6 separate regions of the Homo sapiens genome follow, and all the other regions are linked to region 4. The links come from fine-mapping of genetic effects on gene expression. A gene starts in region 4. Each other region holds a variant in brackets. All regions are shown on one strand. Distances are between the middles of the regions.

Evidence for each region. PIP is the estimated chance that this variant, and not a neighbour inherited with it, causes the effect.
Region 1: its variant is the best candidate, but not a certain one, in a credible set for the expression of MIR646HG in whole blood (GTEx, PIP 0.61).
Region 2: its variant is the best candidate, but not a certain one, in a credible set for the expression of MIR646HG in esophagus muscle (GTEx, PIP 0.89).
Region 3: its variant is the best candidate, but not a certain one, in a credible set for the expression of MIR646HG in whole blood (INTERVAL, PIP 0.86).
Region 5: its variant is the best candidate, but not a certain one, in a credible set for the expression of MIR646HG in whole blood (TOPMed, PIP 0.86).
Region 6: its variant is the best candidate, but not a certain one, in a credible set for the expression of MIR646HG in lung (TOPMed, PIP 0.55).

Annotation. Positions count from the first base shown.
Region 1 is chr20:60,260,326-60,264,414 of GRCh38, reverse strand. The region is part of intron 3 of MIR646HG (MIR646 host gene); the gene reads right to left. The region is part of intron 1 of LOC105372698 (a long non-coding RNA gene); the gene reads right to left. Among named protein-coding and RNA genes, the nearest start is that of MIR646, 46 kb to the left of the region's middle. The variant C/G (reference allele first, on the strand shown) is at 2,229.
Region 2 is chr20:59,338,126-59,342,214 of GRCh38, reverse strand. No RefSeq gene overlaps it. Among named protein-coding and RNA genes, the nearest start is that of EDN3, 40 kb to the right of the region's middle. The variant C/T (reference allele first, on the strand shown) is at 2,498.
Region 3 is chr20:60,297,115-60,301,203 of GRCh38, reverse strand. All of the region lies in intron 3 of MIR646HG (MIR646 host gene), which reads right to left. Among named protein-coding and RNA genes, the nearest start is that of MIR646, 9.3 kb to the left of the region's middle. The variant G/A (reference allele first, on the strand shown) is at 1,885.
Region 4 is chr20:60,136,531-60,140,619 of GRCh38, reverse strand. It overlaps MIR646HG (MIR646 host gene), which reads right to left and starts at 2,128. Exons shown (of 5, transcript NR_046099.1): 1 at 1,976-2,128.
Region 5 is chr20:60,311,756-60,315,844 of GRCh38, reverse strand. All of the region lies in intron 3 of MIR646HG (MIR646 host gene), which reads right to left. Among named protein-coding and RNA genes, the nearest start is that of MIR646, 5.3 kb to the right of the region's middle. The variant G/A (reference allele first, on the strand shown) is at 2,452.
Region 6 is chr20:60,082,443-60,086,531 of GRCh38, reverse strand. No RefSeq gene overlaps it. Among named protein-coding and RNA genes, the nearest start is that of LINC02910, 29 kb to the right of the region's middle. The variant G/A (reference allele first, on the strand shown) is at 2,394.

The DNA of each region.
Region 1 (4,089 bases), 120 kb before region 4:
ACAATTACTTAGCAGCCTTCTTTACAGAACGAGAGAATGAATACAGATAACGCTGGCAAAGATTATTGAGAGCAGAATATTGAATTATCTGTGGATGGGAGCGAGCACATGAATAATTCATTCTCCCCACCTTCCGTATGGGCCCCTCCCGGGCCTGGGAGGCCAGACTGCTGGGCTGAGCTGCGCTGTGGCAGGGTATGTGTGGGGGAGGCATGCTAACATCTTGGCTCTCCCCGTTTTGCAAACAGTGCAAAGCTTCGCGTGGAACTTGCTATGCAAAAGCAACTGCATTTCAACCTTTTTGCTTTTCTGCAGAGCATATTTAATTTCTGCATTGCTGTGGACAGTAATCAGTAATGAAGTCATTAAATGCAAGAGGGGTGGAGAGAGAACTGTCTGCCAACCTCCCCCATTAAATTCAGGTACTTTGGCACATCTCTAATTAAGATCAGGAGGCTTGGGTTCCAATTGACAAAGCTCTTCATTCCCCTGATACTTAGTCAAGAGCGCTCGAGGGCAGAGCTAATACAGCGAGCAGGGTAATGGTTGGATAATTCCAATAAAAATTTCGAGTTATACTAGATTCTAGAGGTTAACTGGTACTACCCAGAGAAGGAGGCCATTTCTGGAGGTGTTGCCAGGTCTCTTCCAGACCTACAGAAAGATGTGATATTCATGAGACCGTGGCTGAGCAGTTTGCCTAGAGTCTATGGGGGCCACCTTTAGAACCCTCAGACTCAGGACCTTCTCTTATTAAACTAATGGTGCCTCCCTCTGAGCACCCGAGATCTGCAGTGTCAAATACTCCCAACTGGATTCACCCTGGGGAGAAATAAGGGGATGTATCATGTCTATGGAAAAGACCAGTGGCCAGGTAATTCCTGGGGAAATTATATTGTTTTATTTTCCACTCATTTAGATATTTAAAGAAAACATTTTGACATTTGCTGGTTATTCCAGCTTTCCCCCAAGGAACCAGGCTTGAATGCATTAATCCTAGATTTATATTTAAGAAACCCACATCTGATGTGTGAGTGTGGGGAGTGGACAGAGGGGTAGGAGAGGGCTTACAATGTTTTGACTACTGTATCTTTAAGGATTCCTTTCTATTTAGATGACTGGAAACAGAGACGAGCCCAGAGAGAAGGAGGTAGACAGAGGAGGGGAATGGGATTCACCTTTAGTGATGTTTGTGAAGTGCAGGAAAGCTCCCCATCCACCAGGGGTCGCTCTCCGAGACAGGCTCATTTTCCATCCAGAGGTGTCCTGCCTCCATGGCCAGCGAGCAGGCTTACCTGCCCACCTGTAACAGGTAGACACCTACCCAGGTGAGGACTTAATGGATTGTGAAGACCAAAAGAGCTGCAGCCACCAAATATTCAGGTTTGTTCTGTCTCCTTGCTCTGTCCATTTCCAAAAGGCCAATCACTAAGTCACCAAAAAGCCTCCAGAGACTTTGTAAATTGTCTTTCCATATGGTTTTCAGTGATGGCCAAGTTGGAAGTCATTTGCCTGCAGTAGATGCCAATCTACAGTGTTAATTTGGGAGCTGGCAGCTCTACCTCTGCCCCACTGGATAATCCAATAACAGAACCCAATAAAACTTCTATTTGAGCTGCAAACTCTAGTTAGGTCAAGTGGCCTTAAAAATCTCTATTAAGCCATATCCCTGGATTCAATGAAGCTCTCATATTCACACTAGTTTCTTTTCTTTTCCTTGTTTTTTTTTTTTTCTTTTTTTTTTGACAGAGTCTCGCTCTGTAGCCCAGGCTGAAGTGCAGTGGCGTGATCTTGGCTCACTGCAACCTCCACCTCCTGGGTCCCGGTTAAGCAATTCTCCTGCCTCAGCCTCCTGAGTAGCTGGGATTACAGGTGCATACCACCATGCCCAGCTAATTTTTGCATTTTTAATAGAGACAGGATCTCACCATGTTGGCCAGGCTGGTCTTGAACTCCTGACCTCGTGATCCACCCACCTCGGCCTCCCAAAGTGCTGGGATTGCCATTAGCCATCTTTTTAATGCACAGTTCTTAAAAGTTATTTCACTAAGGACTTCTTATACCTCTGCATCTTGAAGAGCATGGCCTGATTAAAAAAAAGTTTATAAAAATAACATTATCAGATCTACAAGTCTTATTTATTACTGAAAACAATTCATTAAAATAGTCTGTGATGGTTATAAATAATTGAAGCCATAAAGAAACATTTAGACTAAAAAGTAAGAGCT[C/G]TTCTTCCCCACCACACTCCCACCCTAGTCCTGCCCCATGTCCCTGGGGAGGGGGGCGGCTATTAAGAGTTTGTTCTACAAGTTTTTAGAGCAAAGTTGGAAAAGTTATACTTTTGTCACAATGAAAGAAGTAACCTTAATAAGACATTTTAAAATTTAATAAAGTAACCAAGAAAGCAAGTAATAAAGCAAGAGAAAGAAAATCTTGATAAAATTATCCCAAAGAACATGACCACAGCAGGAATTAATCTAAAACTAACAAAGGCAGGCGCAGAAATGACAGTACACAGCCCCTCTCTGGCAAGTGCTAATGAATGTGCACCGTAAGAAACAATAGATAACGGCGTCCTCAAGAAGCATTGGTATGTTAAATAGAGAGTTAGATGAGAATCTTGTCGTGGGGAAATAAAGATTATGGAGATAGAAGAAGAAAATAAAAGAAATGAACAGGAAACAAATAAAATGGACTAGGTGGGTGGCTTTTGACCATCCTAAAAACTTAGTTCTCCGTGTTTTTAGTGACTGCTGGATTTGCAAGGAATTGCTTTTTTTTTTTTTTTTTTTTTTCCGGCATTATTTCCAAGAAGAAGTCTCTTGGGCAATAGCAACCACATCCTTTATCTAATGGCAGAGATGGGTGAAGCTCAGCTCTTCTGCCAGAAGCAACAGTTGCAGGCCGGTACTTTACATGCATTTCCTTCTACCTCCTAACACCTGTTGGTCAACAGAAACAAGTCCCTGAGAAATCCAGGAAGGATCTAAACACACAAGACTTTTTAGATGCCCTCACCTCGTGATGCCCAACAAACTAATATCAGTCAGGAGAAGGAACTTGGAGCCAGGTAGATTTTGGTTCAAACCCCAGCTACACCACTCAATAGCTGTGTAATATTTAACAGTTTACTTAAACTCTATGATACATAAGTTACACACACATTCACACTCACAAAGGTGGGAGGATTCCACCAATAGGATTTCACAAATAGCTATTTAATTCATAGAGAACTAAGGATTAAATAGATATTTGTGAAAAGTGCCTAGAACATAAAAAACAGTCAAGAAGTAGTGGTGAATACAGTCAACAAAAATTGAGATACATGAAAATGAAATTGAAAGAAGAGACCCATAAAAGAAAATCCCAAATGCTTTTCTCTCCTTGCCCTCGGCATTGATGGATCCTGAAGGGACAATCTGGCTTTCCCGCAGCAATATTGCTAAGCACAGTGAGTCCCTTCTCAGCGCTGAGCATTGGTTGAGCTCCTGCTGTGTGCCAGGCCCTGTCATCAGCACTCTACGTGCCTTTCCTCCAATCCTCTGAAGCTGATGCTTTTCATCAACTCCACTGTACCAAAAAGAAAGCCAAGGATAAGAGAGGTTAATTTTCACAAGTCCACACTGCTCATATGTAGTGGGTGAGTTCTTGAACTCAGGTTTTGGAGTGGTAGGGCTCAAATGCTTCACCAGAATCACATCCCGACACCCACATGTCCTTACTCCATCCCAGGAGCCTGCCGGCACTGGAGCTTCCTCCTCCTCTGCAGTGAGGCACCCTTCCTTTAGTGCCCTCGGCCGTGCCTGGCACACACAACCAGGCCGAATAAACCACCAGGCTGCCCTCTGAGACCCACCCAGCTTCCAGTGCACCTTCCCCAACTCCCGTCTCAATCACGTCACCTCTGCAGGAAGACTTCCTTGACTCCATCTGGGGAACAGCTCTCCGCACACTGACTGCTGGTTTCCTTGCTGATTTTCCTCCTCATACAATTACTGTGATTTATTTGTCTGCTTGCTTGGTTTGGTCTATCCTTCGCACAGAACTGTCTCTGAGGAGGGTGGGCACCTGGGGCTCTTGTTCACTGGC
Region 2 (4,089 bases), 800 kb after region 4:
CAGGAGTAGCCAAGCTCCCCCTGCAAAGGACACGAGAGCTGTCGCAGCCGCCAGCCATAAATCTCTCGGGAGGAGGATTTTCCTATGAGCACACAGGCGCTGCGGGAGGGCCGGGCTGGGAAAGCAGCCTCCTTCTAGGTGGCTCAGGCCCTGCATGCAGCCTCTGTCCCCTCTTGCTTGCTCAGCTATTGTTCCTGTGCCCACCTACACCCCCAGGGTGAAACCAAGTGAGGGCCTGTCACCACCACCTCAGCCTCAGTGCTTCCAAACCAGGCTTGTTCCCTAAGGCCTGCAGAGGAAGCCCCAGAGCCTGTCACATGACTGCATGAACCCCAAACTTGCTTCCCCTTTCGTCTCCTGCTGCTCACTAATGCTAAGTCCTCTCCCTTAGCAACAGACACACACATGCATGCACACACATTCATACACATGCACACTCACATGCACACACACTCACACAAGCACATACACACTCATACACTCACACATTCCTACACACCCCCTCATGCACACTCACACAAGCATGCACTCACTCATATACACTCACACAAGCACACGAAGCACATACACACTCACACACTACACATGCCTACAGTCACACCCCCATACACACATGCACACACAAGCACATACACTTATACACTCACACATGCATACCCACCCACACAGTCACACACACACTCACACAATGCACACTCACACAGCACACACTCATATACACTCACACATGCATACCCACCCACACACACATGCACACTCACAGCACACGCACACTCATACACATGCACACTCACACAGCACACACTCATATACACTCACACATGCATACCCACCCACACACACATGCACACTCACAGCACACGCACACTCATACACATGCACACTCACACAGCACACACTCATATACACTCATATAAGCACACACACATACACACAGGCCACATACAAACACACATACACTCACATGCACACACACACAAGCACACAGACTCAAACACATACACATATACTCTCACACTCATACAAGCACACACATGCATGCACACTCACACACATGCACACACAGACACACATACTCATACTCACATTCACACGCACAAACTCACACAGATGCACACACTCACACTCTCAAACACACTCCACCCCCAAATCCTAGCCATGGGACTGCATACATGCTTTCCCTCTGTCTCAACGCCCCTCCGTCTTGGGGTACACCTCCTCATCCTTTGAGGCCCTACTCAAAGGCTCCTTCCTCCAAGCAGCCTTCTCAATGCCTGCCGGGATACTGAGGCAAAAGAATGATCACAGGGAGCTTGCACCTGCTTTTAAAACCCTTATCATATCATCGAACCCTCACAAGAACTGCAGAGAAGGAAACAAGGCACAGACAGGTTGAATTACTTGCCTCAAGTCAAAAAGCCTTTTGGTTAGGAGCCAGGGTTTGCACCCAACGCCCCTCCTCTAGGCCTGCAGGCTTAATCGCCACATGTGCTGTGGTCTCTAGAATGGATTAGCCCCCTAGGGCTCTTGCAATAGCTTCTCATCTCTTAGTGCTTTGACCACGCTGCAGAAGGCTTCCTGGATGCCGCTACCCGTAGGATCAGCTTCTAGAAAGCGAGGATCAACCCCAGAGCACCAGGGCCGTGCTCCATTGGCTCTGCAAAATTGTTACCACAAGGCCCTCTTGGCTCCGGTGTCCTTCGGAGCTGTCTGAAGGACTGGCTGGAAGACTTCCTTTTCATCAGGATCCATCTCCCCAGCTGCTCCCTAGCAAACACCCTCAGTCTCCCCATGCTGGGTGCAGATGTTGTTTTGCTACACAGTGAGCTTGTCCCCACATAGCTGAACCCTGACACCCTCCCTGCTCATCAGCGTCCCATCTCTTCTCTTGCAACACACCATTCTTTGCAAAGATGACATCTCTGGGCCACCCAGTCTGACACAGGGCATGTCTCAGTAACCCAGAGAGTCCTTCTCCAGCCAGCTTGCATCCCCGTTGAGATTTGGAAAGGCCCCAAAGTGACTTATGCTCCACACAATGGGGCTGCCCATCATGATGGATGTGACATTGTTTCATAGCAGACACATGAAAAGATTGCAAGGCAGATCCCCTTCTTTTTGTCTCCTTCTCATTATTTTTATTGATAACATGTGCCTAGCACACATTATTCTAAGAACATATAATGCATTATCTCATTTAGTTCTCACAACCATCCCATGAGAAAGTGTTATCACTATCCCTACAGTGCAAATGGGGATACTGAGGCAGTGATCAAAGAACTTGCCTTGGTCATTCAGAGGAGTGGGGCCAAGTTTCCAGCCCAGAGCACTTAGGCCTCTGCAGGCAGTGCCGGCAAAGATGGTGCCATGCATGTGTGGGGTGAGGGCTGGCTCTTGCTAGTGGTGGATTAACACTGCTTCCAAATACTAAAGTCTCTTCTGAATGATCCCAGCCTGCATGTGCAACTAAAGGAGGGTTAACATTTACCAGACCTAA[C/T]TTGCTGCTCCTACCCCCACCCACATGGGTAGAATCTCTGGGGCTCCCCATGGCCATCTCGAGGAGTGCAGATAGCAGGTCCACTGGCCATCCTCTGGCCCCACCAGCCTTTTCAGGACAAGCCTCCTCCACCTTCTTCCAGAACTTCCACAAGAAAACAAATGTGCAGAGTACAGCGGTTGCTGAGAAGGTAACATGCTTGGGCCCCAGGCGCTTCTGCCTTCCTTGTCCCTCTCCTCCATAAAAAGGATTCCCAAGTCTATGTCCAGCAGCACTGGTGTAAAGAGCACATAACCCAGCTGCTTCCAAACTTGGCGTGAATGTGGTTCCTGCAGAGCCCAGGAAGGTGGCAGGGGGCTGGATGGGTCTGTTCCAGGAGTGAGCAGGGAATTCCCTCTGACCCACTGACTTCGGAGCTGGTCATGGAAGTTTTGAAATGCAATCCCTTTTTTTTAAGTATAAAATAATATATGCTCATGAGAGTGCAAAACCAAATGAACCATGACTGAAGGACATAAGAATAGGAAGAAAAAGCCTCCTACCTCCTTCACCCCAACATTGCATTTTCCAGAAGTTTCCCATACATACACACACGGTATGTCCATCTTACATTCCAGCAACTACAGTGGATCCTCCTGTGTGTGCTGGTTTGCACTGGATCCCACTCTAGGTGAAAGATAAGATGGACATTCCTTTTCTTTGGTGGATCCACTGGGACCTCTCTCCATGTTACCTTCCACGGGGTGGAGGAGGTCCTGTCTGTCTTGGTCCCTGGTGCAGTTCCGTTTTGGTCCAGGAAATATTTCCATTGAGTGGAGGGGCACAGCTCAGCCCCTGCCAACCTGCTGTGGAGTTGGAGCCTCCTCACTTGAGGCTGGGGGTGTGGGCAGCCATAAACTCATTGCCGTAAGCAGTTCTGCTACGGCAGAACCTTGTATCTTAGACACGTGCACTAGTGCGTTGGGAGGGTAAATTCCTAGAAGGCCATTGTGAAGTCAAGGGTGCACGCGCTTTTAATTTTGATGGATGTTGTCAGATTGCTGCACGTCTGAGGAGGCAGCAGATCATTGACTCTTGGTGCAGTTTCAGTTCTTTTTTCTTGGAGCTTCCTGTGTTCTTCCTGTCCAATCTTCTCAAGCCCAGAGGCACATTGCTGGTGAAGATTGAGGCCTCTGGAGCTGGCCTGGGGGGCTGTGAACCCAGCTTCTGTCCTTGCTGACTCTTCCCAGGCCTCTATGTCCTCGTCTGAAGAATGGGTGAATGTCAGTACTGACTTCAAGGGCGGATCTGAGGCCTCATGAACTCACCTCCCAGCCACCAGCATCCCCAGGTGCACATAGATCAAGGGAACAAGCTGTGGTCATGGGACATGAGTTTATTGGACTCTGGAAGGCCTGGCAGTGAGGTCTGGGGTGGCATTGCCCTTGGGGTTGTTGAGGGATGTTGGGGACAAAGTATGGCCCTTCTGAGCAGGCCACCCCTGCTGACCGTCCTCTCCTCTTTTGAAGTCCCAGAGATGAGGTGGTCCGTTTAACTACAGACAGCCAAACAGGGGCCCAGAGAGGCAAAGTAAGTTGCCCAAGGTCACATAG
Region 3 (4,089 bases), 160 kb before region 4:
CTATATTATACATAATTTTATATATAATATGTATATATTATATAATTTTACGTATGTATTATATATAACACATATGCATAATATATAATACATACATATATTTTATATGTATGTATTATATATTTATAATTATGTTATATATAATTATATAAAATTATATAATTATATAGCTATATATGTATAAATATATATAAATTATATATAATTATGTAATATATAACATATATTAGATATAATTTATATCTAATATATGTTATATATATAAGTAATTTGCTTGTTTCCTAGAGGAATAAATGTTCACTTCTCTTCTATACTTTTTTGTTCTCTCAACATCTAATGCTGGGGTGCTGATCATGTACCAGGCATGGCTGAGACCTTTCCACACGGCTGTCTCATAGGTAGAAACTGTCACTGGTGTTCCAGTTTACAGACCAAGACATGGATGGAGCTTGGAGCCACCCTGAGCTCTTAGGGGTGCCCTCTTCTTCCTGACCACAAACATTCTCAGCCCACACCCTCTTACCCAATACAACAGGAGACACTGCTAAAGATGATGCATCTTAAATACTGTAACATAAAACAGTTAAACATGCCTGCAGGTGTAGATTTACCAACCTTTGAGAAACAAAACCAAACAAAAAGATAAACCCTTTGCCCTCTGCTGTGGGCCTCGCATGCGCCACACCCATGAAACCACCTCCAGTTTGTTTATCCTGGCGAGAGAACATGAAGAGAATTTGAAGCAGCAGCAGGTATAGCCATCAGCTGGAATTTTGACTTATTTTTCCCTCAGTGCTTTATTGCTGTTTCACAGAAAAAAAAATTTGAAGAAAGTTTTAGTACCTTGCCTTGTTTGAGTCTTTCCAAAAATTCAACCTTTATTTATAGAAGCGACGGCCTTCTTATTTGCACTCAGATGTTCATTTTTTTATGTAATATTTAATTGCAGGGTGTATTTACACTAGCAAGTACGACTGGAGTAAACAGGTTTGGGAACAAATATAACCAACTCTCGGGAAGCACACGACTGCACAGTGTGGACGGTGCTGGGTGGCCCGGTGCTGGGGTGCAAGGTGTGAGTGAGCTCGGGGAAGTGATGGCACAGAAGCTGCAGGGCCCATACAGGGCGAGTGCGGCGGCCACTCTGGAGTCTGTGCCGTGGGCCAGTGGAGAAAGCTGCAGGGCTGGTTCTTGGGTGACTGACCAGGAGAAACCACACAGGAGCAGATCTTGAGATGTTTTTCACTGGTGTTAATCTGAGCCCAGCATGGAGTGATAAGGTCCCAGTACAGCAGGTGGGCCATTGTAAAAGGCTGCTCGGAGTATGTGGCTTTCCTGCTCCAAACACGTAGCCCACACTCCTCAGTACCTATGGGCCCTCCAGGATCCTGCCTGCTTGTTTGCTCCTACAGCCTCCTCTTATGCTCCCCAGGCTGCCCACTGGGCGCCAACCTCCCTGGGGTCACATAGTTACAGACACACCTGCTATCTGCTGCCTCCAGGGCTTTGCCTAAACTCAATATCCTACAACACCCAGGCAGCTCCCACAGCAAACAGGAATCCAGTACCACTTGCCAATGGAAACCTCTTCCTCTCTCCAGGTCAATGGAAACCTCTTCCTCTCTCCAGGTGATACTCATCCTTTAGCCCTCGGCTTCCTCCGACCCCACAACCTACAGTGGAGTTTCTTCATGGACCCTACAGCCTCCTGCCCCCAAATGTCACCCCCTTGCAAGCAGTGTGACTGCCTGTCACTTCACCATCCTGTCCTCTGATTCGTGAGTAGCTCATTAAGTGCGGGGCTGGGCCTGTTCAGGGTGCCTGGCACACACAAGACCCTTGAAAGGGTGTGTGTTCCTTGAAAGCATGAGAAGCACTGGGCGA[G/A]GGGTGAATGAGCAGACTTTAGAAACACAGGTCAGGAGCCCGCACCCTGCATTCCTGGTCCCCCGGCAGCCGAGCATGTGTATGGCCAGTGCAGTGAATCTGTGGATGCAGAAATGATAGCATCACAGAATGAGGCTCTGGTCCATCCTCAAAGCAGCTCCACCAGGGCTTGCGGGTGAGGAGCTCCAGGTGGAAAATGAGAGGCGAGCTGTGTTTTTACTAAAGAGCAGGAGCCCCCAAGGATCCTCTGCACTGTGAAGAGGTCAGGTTCCAATCAGTGCTGTGTTTAGGAATCTCGGGAGCATGTTGGCAGGGTCAGAGCCCTGGGCTTCTCAGCAGGGAAAACACTGAACTCTCAGAACATCTGCTCCAAGGAAACTCGAAAGGCAGACACTGCAATCCCCAGCAAGAAACCACTGTTCTCGCTGTGCTGATGGGGGATGAGGCTGGAGCCCCCAGGCCTCCCCTCGGACAGGCAGCCTTACTGGTGGGAGCAGGGGCCGCCAGGCTCCCAGGCCTTTCCCCCACCTGTTGCACTGACTCTCTGTGCTCATCAGTTCAGTTTTAACCAAAAGGCCTGGAGGCTTCCCAAACCCTACCCTAGGAAATAATAATCATTACTATTATATTAATAGCAACCACCAGTATTCCTTGAGCTCTTATTGATGCCATTGTTCTAAGTGCTTTGAACAAATGACCTCAGCAGTAGGTTGAATGCTGCCCCCTCCCCGAGCCAAGAAAAGGTCTGTTCACATCCCAGCACCTGTGAATGTGACCTTATGTGGGAGAGGGTCTCTGCAGATGAAGTTAAGGGTCTGGCGATGTCATCATCGTGGATGACCTGGGTGGCCCCTACATCCAGTGACAAATGTCCTTTACAAGATCAGAGAGGAGAAGACATCAACACACAGAGGACGCGGTAATGTGAAGGCAGAGGCAGAGATGGGAGGGGGTGACTACAGCCAAGGATCTCCAGGAGCCACCAGAAGCTAGGAAAGGTGAGGAAAATCCCTCCCCCAGAGCCTCAGGAGTGAGTGTGGCCCCACCGACACGTTGACTTTGGACTTCTGGCCCCCAGAACTGTGGGAGAGTGAGTTTCTGTTGCACTAAGCCACGAAATTTTTTGTAATTTGTTACAGCAGACACAGGAAACAGTTACAATCTAACATAGCTATTTCCACAGGCATCACTAAGAAACAGCATCGGCTAAACACCTTGCAGTCATGCCATTTATTTCCAAACACCTAAATGCTGCTTTTTCAAAAGTTGATCACTTGTCAAACTTACATATCTTAAAGTATGAGAACTAAGTATTTTAAAAGAATGAGAATTTCAAATTGTGTTTACAGTGAAGTAAGTGTAAGGTTCTTTATAAAGCGGGGGCCCTCAATCGCAGGGCCACGGACGGGTACTGGGCTGCACAGCAGGAGGTGAGTGGCAGGAGAGCGGGCCATGCTTCATCTGTGTTTACAGCCACTCCCCATGGCTCACATTCCCAACTGAGCTCCACCTTCTGCCAGAACAACAGCAGCACTAGATTCTCATAGGAGCATGAACTAGAGTGCGAACTATACGTGCAAGGGATCTAGGTTGCACACTCCCTATGAGAATCTAATGCCTGACAATCTGTTACCATCTCCAATCGCCCCCAGCTAAGACCGTCTAGTTAAAGGACAACAAGCTCAGGGCTCCCACTGATTCTACATTATGGTGAGCTGTGTAGATTTCTTGATATATTACAATATAATAATAGAAATAAAGTGTACAATAAATGTAATGTGCTTGAATCATCCCAAACCATCCCCCTGCCCTGGTCCATGGAAAAAAAAAATTGTCTTCCAAGAAACCAGTCCCTGGTGCCAAAAAGGTCGGGGACCGCTGTTATAAAGTACAAACATTTTATAGAGAACAAGTAAGAGCAGCCAAAGTGGCCTGAGTTTTGCCGTGTGCGCTGGTTGAAGGAGCATGTCTGTGCAGTTTTGCCTTTGGCTTCCTGATAGCAGGTGTCCCAGAGCACCTTTTTACTCCATGCAAGCTCAACAGACCTTCTAAAAGCTGGGATGCAGAACCAGACCGCACGCCTGCCTCCACTGCTTTCCAGCCATGTGATATGTGACAAGCTACTTGGCATCTCAGCCTCCTTTTTTTTTTTTTTTTTTTTTTTTTTGAGCCGGAGTCTCGCTCTGTGGCCCAGGCTGGAGTGCA
Region 4 (4,089 bases):
CAGAACAGGCCAGGGGCTCAGATGTTTATCATAGACACAGAATCAATCTCCGGGTTGGCCACTCCTGGATTCCCTAGCACAGAACACACATTTAGGCGCATCTGCCATACAGGGTCATTCTAAGGGTATGCTTATTACTATCAGGTGCATTTACCCTACATTCCCCCCTCATGAACATTAAAATGTTGAGGTTTCTTGATGGAAATTTTTTGTCCATTCGTAATTTTGGTTTAATCATTGTTAGTTTTTGATCAAGCTCTGTGGGGCCTCTGTGGCATGTACAGTGCTGTGCTGGACAAGGCAGGGGACTAACAGAGTAACACACGTCCCCATCCCCTGCAGAGCCGGAGCCCTGCCCAGGAGAGAGAGAGGGTGTAGACAGCCTCATGACGATGCAGAATGGGGAACAACTGTGTCATAGCAAAGGACCACGCATGATGTTAGGGGTGTTTAAAGGGCAGAAAAGAAGTCTGTTCCAAGAGTCAGGGACCAGGGAGGCTTCACACAGGAGCTGGACACCAGAGCAGCTTCTGCTAGGGCCTCCTGGGAGACATAGTGATCTGGCCTCTCCAGGAGAATGCAATGTCCCACCTGACAACCATGCAAAGAAATGAATGGTGAAACAGACAGCAGGTCCCCTTTGCCTATTACACTAGCATTAAAATGTAGTGGACATACCTAGTGCTGGCAACAGTGTGATGAAATTGGCATTCTCATCTATTTCTGGAAGCATCTGGCAAACTGCCTACTGGGAAGATAAGCTTTTGGAAATCATCAGTCAACACGCGTGAAGCGCTATTGTCGATGTTTGTGTCATCGGCCCAGCAATCAGACATGTGGAAATCTGTCCTAACGGATGTTGTTGTTAGCAAAAGAAAAACAATATTCTCCACTGGGTTCATTTCCCAACAGCTGGAAGCAATACAGGCATCAGAGAATGGCCACCTGAATGAATACTAACTGCTCAGTGTTGAGTAGCCCTTAAAATAATTTTTCTGAAGAAATTCAGCCACCTGCAAACAAAAATCTTAAGGTATGTTAAATTAAAAATCATGTCTCAGAATTTTACTGAGGACAATTGCAAATACTCAACAAGTAATAAACCTTGGGCAAAGATACTGGAAGGAATTACAAAATAATAGTGCTATCATTAAGATGGTGTGGTTGGTTGTGGTTTTTATTACATATTTTCCCTGCTTTTCAAATGCGCTAAGATGTTCTTACAGATAACAGTTGGAGAATGCAAAATATTAGAGAGAGAGAAATGAGAATGAAAGGTCACCTCCTTATCGTTGAAGTGGTAATAAAAGTAGTCACAGGACCTTCTCATTGCCAGCAGCACTAGCCCTCATGTGAACTTTATTTTCATTCTTTTCTGTTGCTGAAAATTGGTATCCAAGGGCAGTTAAGTCTCAGGGGCATGGCTTGACCTCAGGCTGACCTCAGCCCAGCACCAGGCTGGATTTCTGAAGCTAAGCAACAGGTTCTGAGGTAGGTCAGAGAGGGTGGTCACAGCCTCACTTAAAGGAGAGCAAACTTGCTAAATAGATGGCGAGAACAAGCCACCTGCGGTGCACAAGCCGCATCCCAGGCTCGTGGTTAGACCATCCTTTAGCGAGGAGGTCAAAGAGCGAAGGAAAAATCCGCGAATTCATCCAAGTGCAGAAACCCAAGATGAGTGTCCTTGGGCTGACCTGCGCTCATTAGAATACTAAAGAACTGGGTGGAGATTTACGATGCTAACGAGACATGCGATGTGTGTACTAGCATGCACAACCACAGCACATGTGCCACCAGGAGACAGCCCAGAACATGCTTCACGGCAACACCCCTTCCCAGCCCTTCATGAATAATCATGTAAGACCCCCATAAAGGGGGTTTCCCCAGTGTCGGCCAGCACTGCCTCGCCTTTGAGCGGCCGCTCCGATCCGCTGGCAGAGTGCGCTTTCGCTGTGCGATCAACTCCCTTGCTTACCTTTACTTTGGACGTGCTCTCAAGTTCTTTTGTGTGGCGAAGTCAAGACCCTGAACCGGTCCACCAGCAACAGTTCTTTCGGAGTCCCTCAACCACAGGCCCTGAAAGCCGCTGAGTTAAGTCTTTAAACTGCGGGAGAGCCTGGGAGCATCTGAAACGCAAAAGGACTCCCAGTGGATAGGGAGGCAGCACCCTGACCGGAACCGGAAGAGGTTTGCCGGTGAGCCTGAGTCTCCACACACAGTGATCCGGGCACCCGGGCTGCCGTGTGGCAGGTGAAACCGCGTGTGGTGTGGATGTTTCTCCAGCTGTGTTCTGTCGAGCCCCTAAAAGTCTGGCCTGCATTGGAAGGGCCTCCCCAGTGTCCTCGTTTCTGTTCAAACAGAAAAGTTCTTATTTTCTGTATTTGTGGTTTTTGCTTCCTCATATAATTTCGGTTGCACAAAGCTAAAAAATATTTGAAAACCTCTACTTAATCGTATAACTAAATGCAACATTATCTTTTGCTTATTTAATAACTATTTTAATATTTATTTTCTATTTATATTAATAGTGATAATAAAAATATAGCTTGGAGTGAGAGAAAAGCTTTCCTCTCTGTTAACTATCACTGTATCATTTAACTACCACTAGCTATTCCTCACAACGGTTTCTAAAGTGTAAGCACCTGCCACCTCATTAGCCTCTAAGCTCCACAGTGCCAGGGACTCTTTGCCTTAGTCTCTGCTATGTGCTCAGAATACCCAGCACATACTAGGTTTGAACAAAATGCATTTTGGAGAGTGGATGCTGCTGCCACCTGGTGACAGCATACCCACATTTCATGCTTAGCACTTTGATTACTTAATGAAATTCATGAGGAATGGAATCAGAAAACCTAAGACATGCATCTGTGTGATAGCAATCTCACTTTCCTCACTTAGCTTTTTCTGTTTCCCTACTCTGCACAGATTGGAGACATCTGAGTTTTCTCTGCCCCCATCACCTGCACCTGCCCTGGTGGCATGCACTTGCACCTCCTCTGTCTGGTATTAGGTTGGTGCAAAAGTAATTTCTGTTTTTGCCATTACAACTGCATAAACTGCGATTACTTTTGCACCAACCTAATAATAGGGCTTGCCCCTCCAGAGGATAGAATCTTTGCTTGTCACCTTAGAACTTCTCACACAGAGCACTGCATTCATCAAACCCTGGTCTCAGCCATCCTCGGGGCACATGGAAGGTCATGCCCATAAATCAATGCCTCAGCCAACATCTGGTCTCCCCTTCTGCCATTCCCTGTGTCCCTGCCCTGGCACCAGGCATTTGCAGGTGCAGGGGGCAACATCATTTAGTTAGCTTCATCTGGGCAGGGAGGAGCATTATTAAACATGAGAGATAGCTGTTGGCTCATGGAAAAGATTAGTTTTAAGCTATTTAAGGCAAAGCAATAAAGGATGTGGTTTCCTCCTCTGACATGCTTCCTAATTTGTAGATTCATATGACATCACACTGGATTACAAAGCCACATTACTCTGATTGGTAATATTATGCTATCCTAATTCAGTTTGTATAATTATTTAATTTTTTAGGACTGCTCTCAAATATTAACATTGTGTTCGGTAGAGGCCAGAAAAAATTGGGAACATGCATCCACACACGTGGAGAAGCTTAATTGCTAGAATAATGCAGGGCAATTATTGTAATGAGAACAAAGCCTCATGTCTGGCATACACATGTGACTGTGTCCAGCCCAACTTCCACTGAAGTGACAGTCACTGGACTCGAAGCTCCTCAAGGACAGGGGCTGTGTCGCCTTCACAGACATGACTCATTGCCGGTGCTCAATCAGGGTTGAGCTGACTTGACTTGAAGCCAAATAAGGACAAAGAAAGGTCAGGCAGTCCTGAAAAAGCCAAGGGTCTGAGAGACAACACTCGCTGTTGTCCTCGCTGTTTAATTCTCTGAGGTCCATTAGGAAGTAGGTAGGAGCCATGTCATCATGGCCACTTGGGCCAATCGTCTGCACAGATGGGGAAGGCATCTGCCCCCACAGTGAACACTAGGCTTATCTGCCTCCTAAATCTCTCTCCAGGCTAACTTCCATGGTTATTCAAATCCCTCTATTAAATATT
Region 5 (4,089 bases), 180 kb before region 4:
CAGGGAAAGGAGCAGCTGGAAACAAGGGAAGTGGGAAGCAGAGAGGTGGAGAGGGAGTGGGGAGGGGTCCAAGGTCAAAAAGCCAAAGGGCCAGGCTGAGGCATCATCGGTAGAGGTGTGAGTACCTGGGGCAGGTGTCAGGAGGGGAAGGAGTCAGGGGTAATCACATCAGGGACACAGGAGCTGGCTCTGGTGGATGTCGCCAGATTATGAAGGGGAAATCTGGGAACACAGCACTCATAAGAACAATGACCAAATCCAGCTCCTCAGTACGTCTGGGGCATGTGGGCAAGGTGGGCAGGGAAGGCCTCGTGTGCTGTGGCCCTCCCCACTCTCCAGCCTTATTTCTTGCCTTTTTCCCCTTACTCTGCATATTCCTAGCCACAAGGACCTCCTCCCAGTTCCTTGAATTCTACACTCCCTCCTGCCACAGGCCCTTCGCTCAGGCCACCCTCTTTTCCAAGAACACTGGTTCTTTCTCTCCACTCTCAAAGCAACCATCACCCCTCCAGGAAGCCTTCTCTGCCCTCTCCTTCCCCAAGACTATCCCAAATTCTACTATTAGCTACTCTTATAGCCCCAGGTACCACACCTCCTTGGGGCTTATTCCTGTTGAAATTTTACACACATTGATATATTTTTTAAAAATTATCTGTTGTTCCTATTAGATTTATGCTCCTTAAAGACAGGAATGAAACACATCTAGTTTTGTTCAACACAGAATCTATGTAACTGGCCTGAAATCAATATATTCTTTTTTTCATTTTTGGAGATGGTTTCTCTCTCTGTCACTTAAGCTGTAGTGCAGTGGCACAATTATAACTCACGGCAGCCTTGAACTCCTGGTCTCCTGCAGGATGGATGGATGGATCAATGGAAGGATGGATGGCAGGATGGATGGATGAATGGATGGGAAGATGGATGGATGAATGGATGGGAAGATGGATGGGAGGACGGAGAAATGGATGTATGGATAGATGGCAGGACAGATGTACACATGGGACGATGGATGGGAGGATGGGAGGATGGGAGGATGGATGGATGGATGGATGGATGGATGGGAGGATGGGAGGATGGGAGGATGGATGGATAGATGGATGGGAGGATGGATGGATGGGAGGGTGGATGGATGGAAGGGTGGGTGGATGGATGGATGGAAGGGTGGATGGATGGGAGGATGGATGGATGGGAGGGTGGATGGATGGATGGATGGATAGGAGGATGGATGGGAGGATGGATGAATGGGAGAATGGATGGATGGATAGATCGATCGATGGATGGATGCGAAGATCGATGTGAGGATGGATGGGAGGATGGTTGGGTGGATGGATGGGAGGATGCATGGGAGGATGAATGGGAGGATGGATGGGTGGAAGGAAGGAAGGAAGGAAGGAAGGAAGAAGGAAGGAAGGAAGGAAGGAAGGAAGGACAAATGGATGGGAAGATAGATTATGGGAGGATGGATGGATGGATGGATAGCAGGATGGGTAGGAGGACAGATGGATGGATTTTCAATCCTTCCACCTCAGCCTCCTGAGTAGCTGGAAGTACAGGTGTGCACCACCATCCTTGGCTAAGAAATGAATATTGTTAATGAATAAATGAGGAAACAAGTGAATGTAGAACTCAGACCTCAGAGGAGATAAAGATAACTAGACCCTGCAATGGCAGAAGGGCAGGTAGTGGATGACAGAAAAGTGCCTGAAATCTCCCTATGAGAATCACTGTAATCCCAGATTTCAGGATTTCAGACCTCTACTGAACACCCCCCACCCCCATCACTTAGACTATAACAACTTTGCTGAATTTGAGACAACTAAGTTGTACATCCAGGTATTTTATCCATAAACCATCAGGTAATGCAATACTTGTACTGAGCTCACCTGGGCAAATTGCTTTGAATATAAAAAGTCAGCATCAAAATGCAGCACGTGTGACCTCCCCACTCCTGAGAACTCACTTGATCACATTCCAGGCAGGTTTCTTCCAGCGCTATGTGGCTGGGACAACACGTAAGCTGAAGCTGCAGAGCAGCACCACTGCTGCTCAGCTGATGTCCTCATCCCACTCAGGCCACCAGGAGACGCCCCATGTCTCAACACACAGACCAATAACTCTAGGTAAGAGCTCTCTAGCCAGCGTCTGGCCCCTGTTCCACCTAAGAGGCTGCCAGGACTGAGCATCAGGAAACAGATGACCTGGTTCCTTCTCATTATTATTAATGTGGCTTGCACATCCTGAACGCTGAAGTCTTTTGGCTTGTTTCAGGCACCCACATGTATTTGCCAAATGACTTATTTTGCTTTAGATTTTTCAGGGCACAAGTGTAGAGGCTGCCTCCGTTGGATGGCATGCCCGTGGCTACAAACTTCTCCACGATACCAGGGCTAAGGGTAACTTGATAGGAGGAAAATGAAATCCCACCCAGCCCTGATGCCAGCACATTCCTTC[G/A]CTTACAAGCGGGCCAGATGCTCAGGGCTTCTCCATGAGTTACGGTGGCCTGAGAGTCTTCATTGTCAACCCTTTCAGCAGGGCCTGTGATGCGGGAAAGGGATTTAGTGGGTTAGTGGCTTCCGCACATCATCAGCTCTTCCCTCCATTGGCTACATCCCACGTACTTACAACATATTCATAATCACTTCAATTCCCAAACTTCAACCCTGCTCTTTCCTCCCAATACAACCCTTGACTTCTCCTCTTCACCTCCAAAATTCTCAAAAAATGTATCCTCCCCTTGCTACCTCAATTCTTTCTGTTCATACCTTCATCACTCTTTATATCTTTGCCTTGACTCTCAGTGGACTCACACAGAGGCCCACCAGAAGACCACCTGCAACTCCCTGTTGTCTACAGCCAATGTCCTCTCCCCCACCATTGTCCTCCTTGACCTTCAAAGCATTCAGTCCAAGAGCACAGCTTACTCATCACTGCCTGTACTTCATATCACACCTAGCACCTAGGGAGTACAAAATATGTGTTGACTGAGAGAATGATTAAGCAAAGGAGTAAATACATATACAGATAAGAATTTCCAACCCAAGGTCCTGGCTCAATTTCTTCTGTCTAATGTAGACTAGAGAAGACTTTAGCATCTCTTTTCCTTAAGGAAAATTTTTTAAATGTCTTTATACTTTTACTCATGGTTCCCTGAAAAAAAGATGTGAAAAGGGACAGCTCCGAGGTCATCTTTATGAAAGTTAATTCTGACCTGGTACAAAGCACTAGGATTTTTCACATTTAATTCTATAGGAAATTTACTCTAACTGAAGTTTACTTTAAGAAAATACATTATAGGGAAAATTGGAAAGACAGATTATGAGATATTTTCAGGGCCATCAGAGTGACAGATGCCCCTTTCTAAAGAGGTTATAAGCCTAATGTGTGAGCAAACTTGATCAGGACACCCACTCTTCATTCACCCATCTATCCATTTATTTAAGAATGATTTGTCAGGGGCTTACCCTGTGCCAGGTACTGTGAGCAAGACGGTGAGAACTCCTACCTGGATCCTCATAGGTAGAACCCCAGTGGACAATATAAAGAAATAAAATGCATAATACATTTGGTGTGACCACAGCTAAAGGGGAAAGCAGAGTGGAGAAGAGAGTGGGTGCAGGGCGTGCGATGGTGAATAGGGTGCCCAGAAATGCCCTTACTGAGAAGATGACATTGGACCTGAAAGAAGACAGGGCAGAGGGCAAGTCAAAAGCCTCACTGGCTGGTGGTAGGACCAAGCTCTGTCTCGTTCTCCCAGGTACAGGTGTTGTGTGTTTGTAGCCCCTGAGCTTTGGTCCTCACTAGTCAAATCTCTCCTGCCTCCTGCTGCCTCCCCTTCCTGGATAACTGCGGCGGCATCTCTGGGCAGCTCTCTCTCTAGTTTACGTGGGTGCTAGGCTCCTGCCTGAAGATCAGCTGGGGCACAGCCACCCTGCATAGTCCTTGTCTCCTTCCCATGGATGATGGATCCTGCTCCCCTATGCTCTGCCACAGGCAGAGAACTGAGCTAAACAGACTGACCACAAAGGATCATGGAGGGACCCATTTGACTTTGGTCTCACTTTCTTTGTTTGCAGAAACTTCTCAGACAAA
Region 6 (4,089 bases), 54 kb after region 4:
GGGACGTTCCCAAGCCCCTGAAATCAGACTTTAAAATGTGCTGTGGAGGAAGGAAAGGTGGGGACCGGAGAAAGAACATGGAACCAGGCCTGGAGCTTTTTCTGCTGGTGGCCATCCTGGGAGCTGCCCCAAAGCAGCAAGCCTAGCCCTTCGCAAAGGCTCATCCTGCAGCAATGCACCTGCCATGCCCCAGACTCTGCCATGGCTCTCACCCACAACCAGCCCTCCTTTTGTGGTAAGCATCCAAGAGCTGCATAAGACCGATATGTTCCTGAGCCCTGGACCGTGCTTGAGGTGTGCCAACAAGCATAGCTGGAATGAATTCCTATTCACAACATTAGGAAGAAAGACATGCCACATTCTTTATTTTCTTTAAGCCAAAGTTCATCTGCAAATAACCGCCACTATCCAAGAGACAGCAAATTCAACTGCATTCATTATTACTCCCCCGACCCCATGGTATCTTTAAGGGCCTGGACTCACACGTAGTGGACACCCCACAGAGATGGGGCCACGAGGGCGGGACCTCAGCCCAAGTCTTCTACTCTACATGCTGGTCCCCTGAGCTCAAGCTGTCACTCAGCTCCAGGGAAAGGGCTCAGGGCGCCCCTAGCTGCAGTCCATTCTAGTACAGAGTGACCCACAGGACCCTCTCAGCTGCTCTCCAGGCCATGGGAAATAGTGCCTAACTGCCCAACCACCCACAGCAGCTTCTCATCAGGCATGCTGCAGCCTAGCCCCATTCCTGTCCTCAGCAAGAGAGGACGCCCACTGCCATGGTGTCTGCCAATTCTTACTTTTGCAAAAGACAAGTCACTAAAACCTCCGTTTTCTAGACACAGAGGCTTAGACCTGCAAAATGAAAGCTTGGCTGCCATCCATATTGGGAGTGGAAGTAGGGAAACACCAACCAAGAGGTAAAGTCTTCTTCAGCATACGACTGTATCCAAACACCTCATATAGGGGCATCTCACCTGCCACATGCAGACACTTTTGCTCTCTGCCCCCAAATGAATCTGAAACACACTGGGAACAAGAGTGGCTCCAACAGCTGATATGCTTAGGGAGAATTTTAATCTTTTATTCATTCAACCAGAAAACATCTTCATGAGTGCCTGTGACATGCTAGGCATTGTGCAGGTACTGCGGACACACCCGTGGACAAGACAGACACAGTTCCTGTCCACGTGATGCTGTAACTATAGAAGGGAGAATAATGCCGCATAAGCATTAGGGGTGCAGTGGAAGTGAATTCCAGGCTACAGCAGGTACAACTCAGCATAGTCTGGAGTCAGGGTGTAGTGATTAAAACACAGACTAGGGAACCAAGACGCTTGCATTTGAATCTCAGCTCTTCTACCTTGCATGTAACCTTGGACAAGTTCATTTATCTCTTAGTGCCTCAGTTTCTCCATCTGCTAACTGTAGACCGTATGTTATCTATGTCATAGGGTTATTGTGAGGATTGAACAGGTTAATCTATGTAAAGGCAAGTATCTGTCACATAGCAAGAACTTTATTAATGTTTGCTTATACGGTTATTCAGGGAAGTCCCCACTGAAGAACTGAGACTGAGACATGGAAAATAAGCAAGATTTGGCTAGGCAAGAGCAGGGAAGGATGTTCTTGGCAGAAGAAACAGCATGAGTGGAGGCTGGGTGTGGGGAAGTGTGGCATTAGAGGAACTGGAAGAAGATAGGGAGGCAGGGAGCAGGATGGGAGACAGATGGAGAAATTCGTTGGGATCATACCCCAAAAAGCCTTAGGCCATGTAATGAGTTTGAACTTTGACCTCAAGAGCCATGGAGGTTTTAAGTAAAGGTTAACTAGATGTCATTCCAGCTACTACATGGAGAATGGATTAATGAAGGTGATGGCAGGAAGACCAATTAGGAGATTGCTGAAACTGCAGATGCAAGAAATGGTGTTGGCATGGTCCAAGGAGGTGTTGGTAGAGATGGAGGGAAGTGGACAAATTCAAGAGATCATGAGAAAATAGAAGAGGCAGTGCTTGGTGAATGATCTGGTATGTGGGGCAAAGGAGAATGGAAATTTAAAAATGATGCCAAGCTGTCACACTTACTTGGAAGACTGGGTAGACAGTAACACCATTCACTGGACTTCACATAAGATAAAAAATTCTTGAAGGGGACATTATCTGTCCTGTTCTGGTCATTTGGGATCCAAAGGGAGAAATTCATCAGGTAGTTGGATATGGAGATTTTGAACTGGGAGGAGTGGTCATCACAGTGCCTGAGATGCCAAAATTCTACACAGACAAGGTCCTTTATAGAGTGTATTTGGAATCAGCTCTCACTGGACCAGCTCCAGCTAAGTGCCCTGTGAAGGGCACTAGGATTTCAGAGATGAATAAACATTGTCCCTGCCGCGGG[G/A]GGTGACAATCTCATTGACCCTGCAGTCATTCTCCATCTGCCTTTATGGTACGGCATCTCTGTTCACCAAAAACACCATGGTTCAAGCCCTGTGATTTAGCCTGTAGAACGCTAAAAGACTTTCTCTACTTCCTTATTGTGACAGACAGATTCCATTAAAGCATCCACAACCCTGAAGCTCTGTTTCTCCCCCACTGCCTCCCCCCAAGAAGTAAAAGAGGATGATTATTAAAAATTACAAGTGCCACCTTCCACACTCCATCTCCCAAACTTCATTTCACAATGGCTGCTGACATCAATAATGTCAGACAGGATAATCAAGTTTGCATAATGTAACAGTTCTCCAAGGGTCCCTCTGCACAATCACCCCTCCCAGCCTGCATATAGGGAAACAGACCTTAGATTAGGCAGAAAAGGCCCTTAGACTGTCAAACACAAGAGTCCTTTCTCCACATGCGATTTTACAGGAGTTAGCCTCCATCAGAAAAGCTGACTTCTGATTCCAGTTTGACCCTTTATTGGCAGGAGGACAGGGGCAAATCATTGAATCATCCTGTGCCTCAATTTTCTCTGCTTTAAAGTGGAAATAACTCTGTAGTATTCTAAAAGAATGTCGATCTTGAATGGCATATATGTACCATGTAATTGATGAAGTTTATTAAGAATAAAAATATGGTGATAGTTCAATAAGTTACTTTGTCAACTTAATATTTGTTAACATACATTGCCAATAATTTATTTGGAAAATAACTAATATTTAGTAAAATAGAACAACAGAATTGCTGGCTTCTGGTATGTCTTAACATGAACTCCAGAAAAAATATTAAAAATTCAAAAATCAATGACACACTTGGGAAAATCGGGTTAAAATGAACAATAAATTAAAACAACTTCTTGTGGCCTCTTGGTAACTTTTACTTATAACATGTAATTATTTGCAATTTATTGCAGATAGATACGGTGGGCTGTATGCCATTTACATTCAGTTTAAGATATGAAACGCAAAAGAACACTTGATAACAAAACAATACATCTGAGAAGATCTCCACAAACTTGCCGTGTTTTTCTGAGCCAGGCTTTGACATACTGGGTGCTTCTGCCTTGCATGCCTCCCTCCACCTGCCTCCTGACTGTCCTCGTAACTACTTCCTGTTCATCCTTCCATAATCTCCTTACATATTACTTCATCTGGAAACTATGTCTGACCGTGCATGCTGTACCTCCACTGCCCAACACAGTGCATGGCACAGGGGAGTGCTTATGTACATTCCCTAAATGGATAAATGAAATGATTGAGGCAATCATAAAGCTTAACAGTTAGTGAATGGCTGAGGCTTAACGTGCATGACCAAGGCCTCAGAATCCTACTCTAAGAGCAAGCAGGAAAGGTGAACCCTTAGGACGAAGACATTATAAAATTTCCTTTGGGAGGCCGAGGTGGGTGGATTACTTGAGGTCAGGAGTTCAAGACCACCCTGGCCAACATGATGAAACCCTGTCTCTACTAAAAATACAAAAATTAGCCGGGCATGGTCGTGTGCACCTGTAGTCCCAGCTACTCAAGAGGCTGAGGTGGAGGATCGCTTGAGCCCAGGAGGCGGAAGTTGCAGTGAGCCGAAATCATGCCACTGCACTCCAGCCTGGGTGACAGAGGGAGGCACTGTCAAAATAATAATAACAATAATAATAATAATTC